4 linked regions of the Homo sapiens genome follow. The protein of the gene in region 1 interacts with the protein of each later gene in a pairwise test. Each region holds a gene or a part of one and is shown in the gene's direction. Other genes may lie near its edges.

Region 1 (5,284 bases):
TTAGCTTATTAGCTTTCTCACAATTATGTATTGTAAAAAATAATGCCCTTATTTTTTAATTTGTAAAAAAAAATTTCAAAATACTACATTTTAATATATTCTGCTATTACAGAGCTGAGTCGATCTATTGTACAAACCTTCGATTTATGTGTATGGTCTAACATTTGTTTGTAAACCTGAAGAAAAAGCCAAACATGAATTGTTTATAAGGATACATGATTTTCATTCCAGAATATCACTTTGCTTTATTATTTTGGGTAAATAAAAAAAAAAAGAACAGAAAAGAAATGGGGTGAATGGCTTTGTAAGTACATTGCAAGTCAGGATTTTGAAAACACTTGAGCTGTGAATTAAACTTGGATGTCTTAGCAAGAGTTATATATAAAATGTAGTCTCATATTTTATCCAGATGCCTTGATACACAACTCATTTCTTATTTTTTCTTCTCCTATATTTTCTGCAAGGTATTTGAAGCAGTAATAGCATGGGTGAACCATGACAAGGATGTGAGGCAAGAGTTTATGGCCCGACTGATGGAACATGTACGGTTACCTTTGCTTCCTCGGGAATATTTAGTTCAGGTAAATGCATATGCAAAACATATGAATCCACACAGCACTGTGTCACTGGCCTGACAGCATGTAGATCCCTATCAAGCAGTGATAAGAGCTGTAGAATGCAGATCTGTGGAGTACAGGACAGAAGACAGTAAAGGACCCCGCAGGCTGGAGTGCAGTGGCGTCATCTCGGCTCTCCGCAACCTCCACCTCCCGGGCTCAAGTGATTCTTGTACCTCTGCCTACTGAGTAGCTGGGACTACAGGTGCATGCTACAACCCCAGCTAATTTTTGTATTTTCAGTAGAGTTGGGGTTTTGCCCTGTTGGCCAGGCTGGTCTCGAACTCCTGACCTCAAGTGATCTACCCGCCTCGGCCTCCCAAACTACTGGGATTACAGGCCTTGTGAGGCACCACACCCAGCCACCATTCCCCGTTCTTAGAAATTTGCTTTTGCCCCTATTTTTGATTTGGGTAAGCAAGTACTAGAGCTTATCAAGGTAGTATTTGTGGTCACTTAAATACATGTAAATAAATGTCCCTGTGGCAGTCACTGCTTTGCATCTTCTTTACTGTTTTTTTCTTTCCATAGTCTCTTCTGATTCCCCTGCAGACCTGGAATTTTGAGGTCTGACCCAAATACCGTTTAATTTTACTTCGTAATTTAATAGTGGCATGCATTTGATTTCTGTCTTTATTTCTAAGCTGAGGGAAAACATTATTTGAAATAAATGTGAAAAATGATTCTTTAGTGGTCTCCAAATAATTTTAAATTTACTGTTTTTTTTATTAGAATCCCGCTAGGAACATTTCAGCATTATTTTAATAATTGAAACCATTGAAAGAATCATTTATTAAGAAATTAGATTTGAACATTTTAGGATTTCTTGAAATCTCATTACTTTTTGTGATCTGTGTAATCATGGGTCTTCTGGTATTAAGAAGATGATCCAAAAGGGTGGGTGCGGTCAGTGGCTCACGTCTATAATCCCAGCACTTAGGGAGGCGGAGGCAGGCATGAGGCCAGGAGTTCGAGACCAGCCTGGCTAACGTGGTGAATCCCCGTCTCTACTAAAAATACAAAAAATTAGCCAGACATGGTGGCAGGTGCCTGTAGTCCCAGCTACTCAAGAAGGTGAGGGAGGAGAATTGCTGGAACCCGGCAGGTGGAGTTTGCCAGGATTGTACCACTGAACTCCAGCCCGGGCAACAGAGTGAGACTCTGTTCCCTTCCCCCCGCCCCCCCTCCCCCCCCAGAAAAAAGAAAACGAACCCAGAAGCCTGTCCTGCGTTTGAGGTCAGGCTAGGCAGTACAAGATTTATTTGTGTTATGGGTACGTTGCTTTAAGGTATTTCTAATCTCTTTTTGGGATATTTTACTTGCCCACTTGTGTTTGAAAAAGGTATCATTAACTTATTAGTATTGTCTTCACCTGAAGGATGTATTATCTAAACTTTGTTTCTTGTTTTGCTTACTTTTTGTCTTAAAGGTTAAAGATACACAGGTGGATATAATATCCGAAGAGTTCATCATATTCCATAGCTAACATTGAAGTTTATCATTTTTCACTGTGGTTCTTCTTTTTATTACCTATATATGTTTTTCTCTGCAGGCCAGATACTTGAGCATTTTTTGGTTATATTTATTTTTCTCTTAGATGTATTTATAAACTTTCCTCGTTTATTTTTAGACTAAACTAAAGGATATAGTTACTGCTTTTTTCCTCTCCTTTACTTCTTTTTCTTTGGCAATTTAATTATGAAATAGCCCTACCCTCAGTGGGTGTGTCTGATTTCTTGTTACAGAGGGTTGAAGAGGAAGCATTGGTCAAGAATAGCAGTGCTTGCAAAGATTACCTCATTGAAGCAATGAAGTACCATTTGCTGCCAACAGAGCAGCGTATATTAATGAAGAGTGTCCGGACCCGGCTGAGGACACCCATGAACCTTCCCAAAGTAGGATCTGTTTCTCATGCTTGTTATTACCTCATGCAAAAGGCTTATAAGTGAAGCTGTTAGTATTTTGCTCATTTGAATTTCCGTGATTTATTGTTTTAGTTTTCCTTCAAGAGAAAATGTGCCTAAGAATGCATTGTAGTGTATGTAATTCAACCTCTATTGATTTTATATGTTAAGGGTGGGGATTCTTTGGTCCGTTTAATTTTTATAAACTGCATGATGTCACTCTTCTGGAACAGAAGACAACTGGTTTTTGTCCCCTCTGAGTTTTATTAGCTCTAATTATAGTAGAAAGCTCTAATTATAGTCCAAAAAAATCAGACCAGGTAGAAGGATTTCTCTGTAGGCCTGGGGTGCTGTGATTCATGCCTGTAATCCCAGCACTTTGTGAGACTGAGGCCAGTGGATCACCTGAGGTCAGGAGTTTGAGACCAGCCTGGCCATCTACGTGAAACCGTGTCTCTACTAAAAATACAAAAATTAGCCACGTGTGGTGGCAGGTGCCTGTAATCTCTGCTACTCAGGAGGCTGAGGCAGAGAATCACCTGAACCCAGGAGGCGGAGGTTGCAGTGAGCTGAGTGGAGTGCCCACTGCACTCCAGTCTGGGCAACAATGTGACAGGCTCTGTCTCAAAAAAAGAAAAAAAAAAAAAAAGAATTATTTTGTAAGCTAGGTGTTTGTTTAATAACTGAAAACCCAGTAGTTTCACAGAATTACACATTAGAACTACAGATGATAAAAATAGCTTGTTCAGTTCATCTCATTGCTGTTCCCTGCTGTATACCATTTGATGGTTCCCTGCACATCATATGTAGCCATTTCAGCATACATTCCCATGTCTTCCCGTGTGTCTCGTGTTCATATTTTCCTATGTGAATGTTTATATTCTACCTTGGTCTTTTTAGCTGTGGCCATTCATATTTTACCAATTCAATTTTTCTTATGAAATAACCCCTCATTTCTGTCTCTGTTGGCAATTCCTTCTGCTCTGTTTACATCTTTATAGTACGACCAATACTTTAAGCACCATTTTGTGCGTGGTCTAATCAGAATGACTCATAATATAAAGACTTTATTTATGTATTTATTTTTAACTCTTGTATATGTTTCGGGCAATGCTGGATTAAGAAATAAGAATCTGTTCTCTCGTTTTCTTATATCATCTTCAGTTATTACTCTGTCCTTTCCATTGAATTGTTTTTTAAATTCTTTCACTTTAATACTTTAATATTTTTCTAAGTTTTACTTTGGAGTCTACATTTTTAATTGCTGCAAATCTATATTGGTATTGTTTTTCTGTTTTGCCTATTACTAACAACAGTTCTCAATTTATAACTAACTGCAGATTTGCCAGGATGCTGTTGACTTATTTTTCTAGATCGTTAGCAAATATTTTAATTTAGAATTGATCTCAAAACTCTCTTGGTGGCACCTTGTTAGAAGTAGCCAGCCACTGACACAGTCTATTTGTGGAAAGTTTCATTCTATATGATTATTATCTAAGCCAAAATAAGTAGTTTGGCATATAACATCTGATGAGGTTGAGGATCAAATGGATTCAAATTTGGCATGACTTTTTAAACATTCTTCTGCATGGTATTTTATTGGCCCCTAGAAGTTCAAATGCTTTTCTCAAAATCTTCTAAATTTTTACTCAGAATTATCATCACTTAACAAAGTGTATTTACAAGGTATTCACTTCCTATCCTGGTTTGAAAATTTGGTATTTGCTTTCTTTAAATTTTCTGATCTATCCTCAGTTCTCTGAGATTTTTCAGAAATAATTGTAAGTGGCTCAGTAAGTACATTAGCTAGTTCCCTTAATACCTCAGTATTCATGCCAGGTCTGCTGATTTTATATGTGTTTACATTTTTCAAATACCCTTACACCTGCTTTTATAAGTACCCATCTTTTAAGTCTTCATTAATTCATATTTGTCCATCTTATTTGGTGTCAGTTTTTGTTCTTACAAAATAATCCATTTATAAAAATTGTTCAGTCTTGGCAGTGAGTTTAAGGTTGCCATTTATTTTATTTTATTATTTTATGTAAGTCTTTCCAACTTCCTTCTAAATAATGTGCTATATCTTTAATACTTTTTAAATACTTCATATTTGTAAAAAAGAATTTCTTCTTGTATATTCCTTCCTCTAGCATCTTCAGACTTTCCTATATTTAGCTATGCTGCAGAGACCTTTAGAGTGAAAGTGAATTCATTTTTGATTTCTGGAATAAACATGTCATTTTTGAAACCTAGAGTTCTCGGTAAAAGCCTATCAAGTACTTACTTTCTCTTTTGTGGTGTTGTGTTTACATTGTTCCTGGACTTCTCTGGTTGTGGTTTTGGAGTAGGACTCCTATAGCTGTGTTATACTTTTAGATTTCTCAGTTCTCTAGCTGTTATTTTGTGCTGGGTATGTGGGTCCCTGGAGGTTCTCTTTCATTCTGCTCTATCAGGGTGGTGGGTGGGGCAGCAGACTTGCTGGATAGCAGTGAGCAGCCCTGTTGCTTTGACTTTGCATGTTTACTTGTATGATCCCTTCTCAGTGTGTTTGTTTATCCACACATATTTTCGAAAAGGTGCTGGTGATGAACAATTTTCCAACACCACCATTTGTCATTTTAGAGTTGTTATGTTCAGATTAAGTCTAAGGAGTTGGGTAAGAATGAAGCAAAGATTAATTTCTTATGCTTATTATTTCATAGTAATGATGCCTTTTATCATCGTAATAATGAGTCAAATTGAACAAAATGTGGTAGTCGTGCT
Region 2 (4,392 bases), on another chromosome or scaffold:
GTAGTGGGAAGGGAAAGCTGAATTACAGTGGGTAGGAGAGGTTAAGAATTAGAGACATCAGGCTGGACATGGTGGCTCACTCCTGGAATCCCAGCACTTTGGGAGGCCCAGGTGGGCAGATCACTTGAGGTCAGGAGTTTGAGACCAGCCTGGCCAACATGGCGAAACCCCATCTCTACTAAAAATACACAAAATTAGCTGGGCATGGTGGTGCGCACCTGTAATCCCAGCTATTCAGGAGGAGGCTGAGGCATGAGAATCACTTGAACCTGGGTGGTGGAGGCTGTGATGAGCTGAGATCATGCCACTGCGCTCCAGCCTGGGTGACAGTCAGACTCTGTCTCAAGAAAAAAAAAAAAGAAAAAAAAATTAGAGGCATCAAGTGTGAACTTACATATCACAAAATAGCTGTGTAGGGATGAGACAGTAAAACTAGAGAGGGGACAGGATAAAGGGAATTTGCCCCATAAATATCATAATTTATTTTTAAATGAATCATTAAAAAGTTCAACATGTAGAATTTTTCTTTAAAACCAACTTAAATAGAAATCAATACTGTACTGTAAATCAAGAGACAGCTTATTGAAATGTTGAAACTAACAAAAATAGACAAATTTCTATTCTCATAGATCCTGCATTCTGTTGAAAAGAAGCACATTGGGGAATCTTCCTATGCGTAAAAAAATTAATAGTATTTCCAAATGATTGGATCACTTAACTCTTTATTTGGTTACTTAAACAGCCTAAAATAGACTAGCTTCATGATACAGGAAATGAATGGGGGTAATACTACCTCCCAATTTATAATGTGAGGTTTTCAGTATAGATAATGGTGTCACTGGGTTCATTAAAATGTCTTTTTTTTTTTTCACTCCTCTGTGTCTTACTGTCTTAAAGTGTCTGAAAATTTGGGCTGTCTACTCTCCACACAGAGTTGCAGACCAGTCAAATGCTTTTATATTACTTACTTCTTACAGAAAACAATGTCCAGAACTGTCTGCACAACTTCTAGCCCTGTACTTGAACCTGGCAATCTAGTCATTCAAATGGTTATGAGTCAGCACACCTGGCATATGCAATGACTATGAAGCAAAAGGGAGGACAGCTCTGCAACTCTTTATTTGTAATTTTTGGAGCCAGAAGTGTTTTGATTTCAGTATCTTGTAGATTTTAGAAAACTGCAGTGCCTATACTACATATTAAGTAATCCCCCCTTTTGGGGTCTGGAGTAACATCCTCTAGTCAAAACACATTAATATTTCTGCACTGTATCAAGTCACATTAAGTATCAAGTCAGTATATGCTAAGTTTTGCTCTCAAGTGAGTTGCCACATGCTTAAGAATAATCTTTGTATTTTCAGAGCTTTACAGATTTTAGAACTGCAGATAAAGGATTTTCAACCTGTACCTGGTGACTTTTCTAGAAAGAGACAGGAGTATTTTGACCCTTTTATTTTCTTGAAATTGTGATTCTATGCTGACATCAAATTATAATTTTTTGGCCTTATGAGGTATATCATGAGGCAATTTTTTCACTAATATGTAAATTAAGACAGGAAAAAATAGCAAGAAACGGTTTTTCTAAAACAAGTAAGTTTTCCTTCAGTACAGATATGGAAAGTACATAGCAATCTTGTTTTATATTGTTCAAGAGCGAAGCCAATCTGTTACTCCTATTTGTTCCCTGAAAAGGAAAATCCGTTCCTTGGGGGCTTGGCTGTTGTTGAGGTATTTTCTGAGAATTCCGTTCCGTTATGTCCCCTCCCATTATATTTTGGCATTTAGAATAATTTTAAGACAGTTTTTATTTTGTATTGTATAATATTACCACTTTCCCCATTGGGCAACTAAGGTTTTTGTTTTGGTTTTTGTTTTTGTTTTAAATATGAACTCTGTTAAAATGTTTGAAATTCACCAAACCTGTTTTTACTATTTAGAAGCCAGAGGAGCCAACTAAAGGTAACTCACTATTGATTCCCCTTTCCTTTAGCAATTTTATGACAATATGTTTCAGCAAGTTCCTCTAACTTGGACTGAGAACACCGAAGTGACAATGGTAGAAGTGTTTTGCTACGGAAATCATCTGGAAAGCAGTGCATTTCAGCCATTAGTTGAATATTTTCTCATTTTCTTAATTTTTGAGATGATTGCAGAATTCACAGTTTTCTGCTTAACAGTCTGACGTACTTATATATGTTATTAAATATTTTGCTTTCTAATGCTTGATGAAACTGAGAGAAAAACTATCTTTTTTTTAATAGTGCTCTCGTGAATACTATATCTCCTATTGGAAAATATCCTTTCTTCGGGAGAACAGGTGTGGTTTTGTTGAGTTGCTTTCTTGTGAGAAGGGGAAAGAAATTTAATAATTCACCATAAAATTCACATAGTGATGCTTAGAAGAGCAGAGAGTGCTATAAACTCTAGATAAATTGCTCTCATTTCAGGAATTTCCGATTAGTGTAAGTATTAGCATGCATATGTTGAACTCAGAATTTCCGAACAGGCATATTCTGCATAAATCTGGACAATGACAATACTTTATTCATTTTTTGTTAGAACTATGATAGCAGTCTACTTTACCATATTGTCATTTTCACACTTACGTTGTGAGACATGGAAATGTAACAGATTGTACTTTATTGCCAGAAATTATTTGCTGATGAAAGTTGAAAGGGGAAAGATGATATCGATCAGAAGAAAACTCACTAAATTGAAATATGTAAATTGAAATATGTAAATTTAAATAGAAATAAAATGCACAGAAATTGCTTGTTCTGAAATGTGTAAGTAGGTTGGGAAGAGGAACCGGGTGTAAGACTCCAGGAGAGTAGCAAAGGAAAACGCTAAATCTTGTGCAATGGGGTCAAGTGATTTTTTATTTTTATTTTTTGCTCATAGTATACCTAGTCACAGTGAATTCTAGGTATGCTAAATTAAATAAAAAGGAATCCTTAAAATTACTATGAATGTTTGAAAAGAAGTAGTGCTTCATTATATTAAATCACAGTCTTTGCTATCTGGAACTTTGAACGAATGGATCAGTTTAGGCTAGGATAATTTTCTGTATAGTAGAGTCTGTACTTGTTTACATTTTATAATTTACCATTTTGGCTTCAATTCGTTAGTGTTGGCATTTTCATTGGGACAAAATATATGGCTTTGGCATCAGATAAACCTGGCTTTGAAGTTTAGCTTCTGCCATTTACTAGGTGTAATTTACGTGGACAAATTGCTTGAATTCTCTGTACTTCAGTTGTTTCACTGAAAAACATGGCTAAAAAAAAAATCACCAGAACAGGGTAATTATGAGGATTGAGGAAGATTGTATAAGTGATTATAAATTGTGGCCATAATTTCTCAAGTTTAAAAAACACTTCTTACCTATGAATTATTAAGAATTAATACATTTGGATTTTCTGTTTCCCTTTCCAATTGATTTACAACTAAGTTCTTCACTATAAAGTAGGTAGGCTGTGGGGTCTCTATATTCTGCCTAAGTGGCTCATGGTTTGAGAACAAATTGAGAACCAAAGTTTCTTATGTAAAATTGAAAAGCTGAGGAGACTTGGGGAAAAGTTGGATTTTGGAGTTACCTTGGGAATACTTTCATAAAACAAGTATGCATGGGTTTCCCCTACACTTTCTGCCCATTTTCTGATTTTGTAAGTCAGAGGTGGGCCCCAATATATGTACAAGTAATTCTCCTGTCATGCATTTTTTCTTGATTCAAGTTGTGTTTAATATAGTGACATCAAACTAGTTTTACACTGTTAAGTAGTGATTTAAAACTGACCTGTAGGAAAAAAGTCCAACCTGTCACCTTGCTTGAGTGGCTTAGTGTTTTGTTTATCATTATAGATTTGTTTCTTATACCTAGAATGTAAGCTTCACATGAACAGATTTTGTTACGGTAGTTCATTGCTGCCTATCCAGTGCCTAGAAAGATGCTGGGCAAATAACAGAAGTGCTGTATTATTTGTTGGGGAACAAATGTACGTATAAATAACACTGGGTTTAAAGGTAATAAAGGATATGTTAGAAATGTTAAATGGTTGTGCTAGTAGAGGTAGGGAAAAAAATACCAATATCTTTGAGCAAAAGTAAGTCGAGTAAAGTTTTGAGTTTTATGGCTCTCTATACCTTTATAGCCATTAAAACAGGAGCTTTGGAAGGAGTCATGCAATTTGGTTTCAACAGAGTCATCTTGTTGAGGCAAATGGTCCTAAAATCCAGCTGAGATAAGGGTTATCCCTACAGGGCTCTCATCCTCAGGTGAGGGAGGGGGTAGCCTCTGTTTTAAATATTTTTTAAAATTCTATTTTAATTTGTAGCCTTTTAAGCTACATTTTGTACTTTTTTTTTTTAGTCATTACTCTAAGGAACAGTATA
Region 3 (4,084 bases), on another chromosome or scaffold:
TTTTTCCTTTTTTTTTTTTGAGACAGTCTTACTCTATGCCCCAGGCTGAAGTGCAGTGCCACAATCTCGGCTCACTGCAACCTCTGTCTCCTGGGTTCAAGTAATTATCTGGCTTCAGCCTCCCTAGTAGCTGGGACTACATACCCACACCACCTTACCTGGCTAATTTTTGTATTTTTGGTAGACAGGGTTTTGCCACGTTGGCCAAGCTGGTCTCGAACTCCTGGCCTCAAGTGATCCGCCTGCCTCAGCCTCCCAAAGTGCTGAGATTACATGAGTGAGCCACTGCGCCTGACCTCATGTAATTTCTTGAGTGGTCATTTAGTCATTATACAAACAGTGATTGAAGGGCATGTGCCCAGCACTGCAGACTCTGCTGCACAGTCAGATGACCCTGCCTTTCTGGCATTTCCATGCCAGTACCCTGAAGAGATACCATATATGTACCTGGTGCTTGCAATAGCTGGCACTCAGAGGTAGCACACTGTGTCCTAGCCACTCTTCCGAGCACTTAAGCATATTCAGTTACTCTTCAAGTACATATGAATAAGTATGCCTTTGCCCCCTCCTCTTTGCAAGGGATAGCGTGTGGCCACCCTGGTCTGCAGCTAGCTTAGCAGATTTGACCACATATTGTAAAAGTGAGTCTGTACCAGGACAGATAGGGTAGAGGGCTCTGTGTGGTTTAGCACCATGGTAGATTCCATCGTGCGGATGTCCCTCCAGCAGGGGAGGTCTTTGGGGCCAGGGCTAGGCCAGCACCCACATTTGCCGCCTGACCCCGTCCCTCCGTCTCTGTCTCTCCATTCCTCCCTGCCCCTCGTGCAGCCGCTGCCATGGCCCAGACACTGCAGATGGAGATCCCGAACTTCGGCAACAGCATCCTGGAGTGCCTCAATGAACAGCGGCTGCAGGGCCTGTACTGTGACGTGTCAGTGGTGGTCAAGGGCCATGCCTTCAAGGCCCACCGGGCCGTGCTTGCTGCCAGCAGCTCCTACTTCCGGGACCTGTTCAACAACAGCCGCAGCGCCGTGGTGGAGCTGCCGGCGGCTGTGCAGCCCCAGTCTTTCCAGCAGATCCTCAGCTTCTGCTACACGGGCCGGCTGAGCATGAACGTGGGCGACCAGTTCCTGCTCATGTACACGGCTGGCTTCCTGCAGATCCAGGAGATCATGGAGAAGGGCACCGAGTTCTTCCTCAAGGTGAGCTCCCCGAGCTGCGACTCCCAGGGCCTGCATGCGGAGGAGGCCCCATCGTCGGAGCCCCAGAGCCCCGTGGCGCAGACATCGGGCTGGCCAGCCTGTAGCACCCCGCTGCCCCTCGTGTCGCGGGTGAAGACGGAGCAGCAGGAGTCGGACTCCGTGCAGTGCATGCCCGTGGCCAAGCGGCTGTGGGACAGTGGCCAGAAGGAGGCTGGGGGCGGCGGCAATGGCAGCCGCAAGATGGCCAAGTTCTCCACGCCGGACCTGGCTGCCAACCGGCCTCACCAGCCCCCGCCACCCCAACAGGCTCCGGTGGTGGCAGCAGCCCAGCCCGCCGTGGCTGCGGGAGCAGGGCAGCCAGCCGGTGGGGTGGCAGCAGCAGGGGGTGTGGTGAGTGGGCCCAGCACGTCGGAGCGGACCAGCCCAGGCACCTCAAGCGCCTACACCAGCGACAGCCCTGGCTCCTACCACAATGAGGAGGACGAGGAGGAGGATGGTGGCGAGGAGGGCATGGATGAGCAGTACCGGCAGATCTGCAACATGTACACCATGTACAGCATGATGAACGTCGGCCAGACAGGTGAGGTGCCGTCCTGTCCCCCATCCCACCAGCCACCCCTGCTCCTCCTGCCACTCGCGTGCCACTCTCTCCCTGCAGCCGAGAAGGTGGAGGCCCTCCCGGAGCAGGTAGCCCCCGAGTCCCGAAATCGCATCCGGGTTCGGCAAGACCTGGCGTCTCTCCCGGCTGAACTTATCAACCAGATTGGGAACCGCTGCCACCCCAAGCTCTACGACGAGGGCGACCCCTCTGAGAAGCTGGAGCTGGTGACAGGTGGGCCGGTCTCGCCCCAGATCTCTCCCCTCCGCAGCTTTGGAGCCGGCTGGCCTGGGCTGGGCTGGGCAGCTGGTTAGGAGCCCCCAGCACCTCAGTTTCCCTATCTGTGCTGTAGTGTTGGTAACAGCCACCCTAAGGGTGGGGGCGTTGGTGAGATGGAGGAGCTGATACAGCAAGGCCTGGCCTCTAGGTTTCTGGCTTAAGGGGTCGGGGCGAGCATTGGCTATTATTGTTTGGCCGCATGGGTAGATTAGCTACTTCCCGGGCTCCTGTGAAGGCCAGCTACTACCTAGGTTAGGAATTTGGACAGTCACAGGGGCGAATGCCTGTAGTCCTAGCTACTCAGGAGGCTGAGGTGGGAGGATCCCTTGAGCCCAGGAGGTCAAGGCTGCAGTGAGCTGTGGTGGCCACTGCACTCCAGCCTGGGTGACAGAGTGAGACTTCATCTCTTAAAAAAAGAAGAAGAAGACTGTGTTTGGTCCTTGGGTCAGAGTGCCTAGGTGTGAGCCTCCACTCCCTGTTGGTCCTGCTGAGCTTGGGCTCATCTCTAGCTGGTGACAGCCAGCGTGCCCACCTCACACAGGCTTGCGGCACGACTGGCCACACAGCAGGCACCCCGAGGATGGTGAAGCAACCCTTTCTGTCCTTTCCTGAGCACTGATGAGGTTGGGGGAGCCCCAAGGAGCCTCCCCTGACTGCCCTTGGTGGGTAGAGATGTAGGGGAGAAGGTCCCTGGGTGAGTTTTCTTGGGACCCAGAGCCCAGCAGGGAGGGCCTGGGGTGTTCTGAGATGAGGCCTGGTATCATGGGGGCTGTGGCGGTTTGGGGGCACCCCAGGCCATCCTCCGGCTTCCTCTCACCAGGCACCAACGTGTACATCACAAGGGCGCAGCTGATGAACTGCCACGTCAGCGCAGGCACGCGGCACAAGGTCCTACTGCGGCGGCTCCTGGCCTCCTTCTTTGACCGGTAAGGCCCTTGCCAGAGCCCCAGGGAGGGGGGTGGGGTTTCCCCATGTCCCCCCCACCACCAACTTGAGCGCTGACTCCCTCCATGTCCCCTGCCCCCAGGAACACGCTGGCCAACAGCTGCGGCACCGGCATCCGCTCTTCTACCAACGATCCCCGTCGGAAGCCCCTGGACAGCCGCGTGCTCCACGCTGTCAAGTGTGAGTGTTGGCCCAGCTGGACGAGGCGTGGGCCCGGGGCACGCAGGTTGACGTTTTTTCCCAGCCTTGGCTCTCAGAGAGGGCTAGAGTTCAGTGTTGAGAAGCATTCTGGGGCTCATTCTAGCCTTGCTGGGAAACCGGCTGTGATTGCTTAGAGATTTCTTCGTGTTTGGGGGATGCACGTGCCGAAGGGAAGCCAGGGAGCCTGTGTCAGGCAGGAGGGTCTCGAACTCAGGGCAGTCTGGGAGGGATGAGGCAGCCAGACAGTGCTAGCCACTCGTCATGGGGGGCATCTAGATTTTCAAGTGACCACTCCCCGTTACTAAATTCTGGCAAATGATCCGAATTTTTCAAGAACACGGGGCCATCCCATCAAAACCAACACATCCCCACACATGGCTGAACTCAGTCCGGTGTAGGGTTGGGTGCACGTAGTGTGGTGTCCTGGCCGCGTGGCCTCACTCGTTTCCCCTTTGAGAGGGAGTCGCAGATGCTGTAGGGGAGCTGGTGAGTAGGCCTTGTGGGAGTCACCTGGCCCCCGTGCCAAGGCCGCACCCACCCTGCCCCACAGACTACTGCCAGAACTTCGCCCCCAACTTCAAGGAGAGCGAGATGAATGCCATCGCGGCCGACATGTGCACCAACGCCCGCCGCGTCGTGCGCAAGAGCTGGATGCCCAAGGTCAAGGTGCTCAAGGCTGAGGATGACGCCTACACCACCTTCATCAGTGAAACGGGCAAGATCGAGCCGGACATGATGGGTGTGGAGCATGGCTTCGAGACCGCCAGCCACGAGGGCGAGGCGGGTCCCTCGGCTGAAGCCCTGCAGTAACCCGCCCAGCCTCCCGCGGGGCCACACACTTCCCCTCCCAACACACACA
Region 4 (4,392 bases), on another chromosome or scaffold:
CTTCACTTCCTGTGTTCAAGCGATTCTTGTGCCTCAGCCTCCCGAGTAGCTGGGACTGTAGGCCCGTGCCACAACGCCCAGCTAAGTTTTGTATTTTTGGTAGAGATGGGGGTTTCACTATGTTGGCCAGGCTGGTCTCGAACTCCTGGCCTCAAGCAATCCACCCATTTCAGCCTCCCAAAGTGCAGGTGTGAAGCCACTGCACCCAGCCATGCCATACACTTTTTAGCCTGGGCAGGAAACTTAAAGCCTAGGTCTTGAAAGAAAGGTATTTTTAATTGGTCATTCATTCTCCAAAGCTTATTGAGCATCGTATGCTAACGTTATGAAAAATAAATTTTCCTCACTAGACTATAGCTCCATGATAATGGTTGGAAGTCACAGGAAAGGTAGATTTCTGCTCAGTGTAAGCCTGTTATTGCTATTAACATTGAAATGGCCTGATCTTAAGTTTCTGAGCTTCCTGTCATTGGAAGCATTTAAGTAGTCCTGAATAGTCAACTGTTAATAAATATTATAGGTATTTCTATTTTGGAAAGAGATTGAACCAACTGCCCAGGGTTTCAAGGATTAAGTTCAGCAGTTAATACCAGAGACTTGAAAAATGGTGGTTTCTGGTAACAGAGACCTGGAAACCATGGCTTAAGCAAGAGAAGGATTTTGTTTCTTTGGTATAACAAAAATCCAAAAATAGGTATTTTAGTAGACCTCAAGTGATTACTCCTTGATCGCATTAGGAACCCAGGCTCCTTTTAACCTTAGCTATTTTCAACATATGCTTTTCACCTGAAATCATAAGATAGCTTATCTGCCTCCAGTATTGTGTACATGTAAAAGGTGGTAATAAGGAGAAGGATAGTGGAAAAGGGGGCATGTGCCAAATGAGTCAGTCCTCTTTAAAGAGTTCTTCCAGAAGTTCAAGCCAGTGGCCTCAATTGACTAACATTGTATAGCATGACCACCCCTACCTACAAGGGATGGGAAGCTAACTGGACATGTTGTTACTAATAAAAACCAGAGTATGTCAGAAAGAAGGGAAGGTTTGATGTTGGGAGGCAAGTAAGTTTTTTCTTCTACCCATCAAAATCTTTTTTTAGTTAGAAAATATTTGAATCTAACATGTCCCACTCCATTGTGGCACCAATACAAATGGTTATGGATACATGGCTTTATTATAGTTTGTTACTAGGAATAGTCTTGGCCGTATTGATTTGAATTCTCCATGTCTAAAAACAGGAACAAGCAGGTCCAAGAACACTTTAAAAGCACTTCCCACTCAGCTGCTTGTTAACTGAAAGAATGTAGAAAAGCTACTCAGAAGAGTAGCTATTCAGGCCAAACTTCCTGATAGTAGAGCATTGTTAGCTTTACACTTTTATTTCCATCTATTGCTGCCTAGATTCCCTTCCTTACTGTACTTCTTTATTCCTTTCCTCTTCTCTGTTCTTGCCTTTCAAATTTTTAGACAGGGTCTCACTCTCTTGCCCAGGCTGGAGTGCAGTGGCTTGATCACAGCTCTCTGCAGCCTCAAATTACTGGGCTCAAGCAATCCTCTCATCTCAGCCTCTTGAGCAGCTGAGACTACAGGCGTGTACCACCACACCCAGCTAATTTTTTTAATTTTTTTGTAGAAACAGGGTCTCACTATGTTGTCCAGGCTAGTCTCAAACTCCTGGCTTCAAGCAATCCTCCCACCTTGGCCCCCCAAAGTGCTGGGTTTACAGCCTGAGCCACAGAATTGAGCTCTTTAAAATTTTTAAATGCCCCAAACTCTTTTTATTTATCTCTCATTAGAGATCTGTGGGTTCCTTATTACCTGGGAAATGAATACATTTCCCAGCTTGTCCTTGAGTTAAGAGACTCAATTTAGAAGTTAATTGAAATTATAAACATTGAAACCCTGAAAAAAATGTTTTTTTTTTCCTCGTGATACAGGTTGTTTCTTATCTAAAATGCTTGGGACCAGAAATATTTCAGATTTTTGATTTTTTTTTTAATTTGGGAATATTTGTGTTAGACCAGTTGAGCATCCCAGATCTGAAAGTCTGAAATCCAAAAGGGTCAACTGAGCATTTCCTTTGAGTGTCATAGTGACTCTCAAAAAGTTTCAGACTTCAGAGCATTTTGAATTTCAGATTTTAGGGTTTGGGATGCTCAACATGTAACAGTATTCTTGATTTGGGAAACAGTAATTATAAGGAATGTGTTTATTTTACATTTTATATTGATTTATTTATTGAGATGTTGCTGGATATATGCCAATGGATATGACAGAGGTCCCCCTTCTTATGGCCAAGACAGAAAATATTTTATGCTTTGTAGGCCACCTATGCTCTATCAGATTTTTCTTATGGGCTGGATTTAGCCCATCACCATTTTTTAATTCTTGCTTTAGACTATGTAGTCAGAAAAGCTATTGGCAAAGTTTAGCAGTTAAGAGTTACATGTCCTGATTTCTGTATTCAAAATGGCACTAAAATAATAGACTAAGGGCAGACAAGACAGAAACAGAAGAGTTACATTCCTAAGTTTTTGGCTTATTTAACTGGGGCCATTTATAAGAATGGAAGGCTGGGAGAAAACTGATCTGGGAGGTAAAATATATTAATAAGTTCAGTTTTGAAGGTGTAACTTATAGATTCCTAAATGTAATTGTCAGTTAGAGTTTAGGAGGAGTCCATCACACACACACACACACACACACACACACACACACACACACACTTATAGATAGATCACACACACCCTTATAGATAGATCACACACACACATAGATAGATAGATAGATAGATAGATAGATAGATAGATAGATAGATAGATAGATAAATCAGCATATAGGTGGCACCTAAAGCCATGGGATTGTATGGTATTTCCTAGGGAGAACAGAGGGCTATAAAGTAAGTCAAAGGGGTAGTCCAGCTGAGGAGCCTAGAAAGCTTAAGAGTATTTAGTGAGTTAAGAAAACTAGAGAAGAGTATCATGGAAGCTAAAAGAGAATGAAGTGGTTAGCTGTATCAAGTCATGCTGTCAAATAAGATAAATAGGCAGAAAAAAACAATGCACAGGACATTATGGACTTTAACAAGAATAGTTTCACTGGAATAGTATGGGGCAAAAACTATATTGAAGTTTTGCTCTGAAGACCAACAGAGAAATGGTGCTATAGCAAAGAGAATGATGTGATCAAGGGACCATTTGCTTGATGATAGAATGATTCAGTAGAGAAGAGGGACTTGACGATGCAAGAGGAGGGATTTACTTGCATATGTTATGGATTGGCTGTGAAATTCATGTATTTTTGTTTGTTTGTTTGTTTGTTTGTTTGTTTGTTTTAGATGGAGTCTCACTCTGTCGCCCAGGCTGGAGTGCAGTGGCATGATCTCAGCTCACTGCAACCTCCGCCTCCCGGGTTCACGCGATTCTCCTGCCTCAGCCTCCCGAGTAGCTGGGACTACAGGCACATGCCACCACACCCGGCTAATTTTTTGTATTTTTAGTAGAGACAGAGTTTTACTATGTTAGCCAGTATGGTCTCCATCTCCTGACCTTGTGATACACCCGCCTCATCCTCCCAAAGTGCTGGGATTACAGGTGTGAATCACCACGCCCTGCCTGAAATTCATGTATTTTAAGGGGCAAACAGGAATCGTCTTGGTTAAAGCAAAGGGAATAAAGAATTTTCTAAATAGACTAAGAGCAAAATCCAAGTGCTTGAGAAAGCACAGCATACTTGGGGGATGGCAAGCACTTAATATTGGCTGAAATGGAGTTTCCTTTTAAGCTAATGACAAAAGTAGTTGGCTAGATCAAGAAATACCACTGTATTATGCCACAGTGTTTAGAATTTATTCTGAGGACAGTGAGGATCCTCTGAAGAATGTAAAACTAGGAAAATAATTTTTTTTTTTTTGAGACGGAGTCTCGCTCTGTCTCCCAGGCTGGAGTACAGTGGTGCAATCTTGGCTTACTGCAGCCTCCGCCTTCCAGGTTCAAGTGATTCTCCTGCCTCAGCCTCCTGAGTAGCTGTGACTACAGGCGCCCGCCACCATGCCTGGCTAATTTTTGTATTTTTTAGTAAAGATGGAGTTTCACCATGCTGGCCAGGCTTATCTTGAACTCCCGACCTCAAGTTGTCTGCCCGCCTCGGCCTCCCAAAGTGCTGGGATTACAGGCGTGAGCCACCGCACCCAGCTGAAAATAAATTTTTGATAGCATTTTTTAAAGGTAAGATAGAGGAATATAAATTTGGAGGTTGGCAAAACTGGAGGCAGGAGGCCAGGCGCGGTGGCTCATGCCTGTAATCCCAGCATTTTGGGAGGGCAAGGTGGACTGATCACTTGAGGTCAGGAGTTCAAGAACACCCTGACCAACATGGTGAAACCCTGTCTCTAC

The links. The genes of interacting proteins can lie anywhere in the genome.
Region 2: the proteins of KLHL2 (region 1) and CWC22 interact in binary tests that used the Homo sapiens proteins (3 or more experiments, as listed by UniProt).
Region 3: the proteins of KLHL2 (region 1) and NACC1 interact in a two-hybrid assay, tested with the Homo sapiens proteins (one study listed by BioGRID).
Region 4: the proteins of KLHL2 (region 1) and PIBF1 interact in a two-hybrid assay, tested with the Homo sapiens proteins (one large-scale study listed by BioGRID).

Annotation. Positions count from the first base shown.
Region 1 is NC_000004.12:165,297,145-165,302,428, forward strand, and holds part of KLHL2 (kelch-like protein 2), read left to right. Parts: intron 1-464; coding exon 465-581; intron 582-2,362; coding exon 2,363-2,512; intron 2,513-5,284. UniProt on the Homo sapiens protein: Substrate-specific adapter of a BCR (BTB-CUL3-RBX1) E3 ubiquitin ligase complex that mediates the ubiquitination of target proteins, such as NPTXR, WNK1, WNK3 and WNK4, leading most often to their proteasomal degradation.
Region 2 is NC_000002.12:179,997,298-180,001,689, reverse strand, and holds part of CWC22 (pre-mRNA-splicing factor CWC22 homolog), read left to right. Parts: intron 1-1,783; exon of another isoform or gene 1,784-1,959; intron 1,960-4,392. UniProt on the Homo sapiens protein: Required for pre-mRNA splicing as component of the spliceosome. As a component of the minor spliceosome, involved in the splicing of U12-type introns in pre-mRNAs. Promotes exon-junction complex (EJC) assembly.
Region 3 is NC_000019.10:13,134,372-13,138,455, forward strand, and holds part of NACC1 (nucleus accumbens-associated protein 1), read left to right. Parts: intron 1-828; 5' UTR 829-836; coding exon 837-1,782; intron 1,783-1,860; coding exon 1,861-2,034; intron 2,035-2,899; coding exon 2,900-3,005; intron 3,006-3,106; coding exon 3,107-3,204; intron 3,205-3,775; coding exon 3,776-4,035; 3' UTR 4,036-4,084. UniProt on the Homo sapiens protein: Functions as a transcriptional repressor. Seems to function as a transcriptional corepressor in neuronal cells through recruitment of HDAC3 and HDAC4. Contributes to tumor progression, and tumor cell proliferation and survival.
Region 4 is NC_000013.11:72,787,741-72,792,132, forward strand, and holds part of PIBF1 (progesterone-induced-blocking factor 1), read left to right. Parts: intron 1-4,392.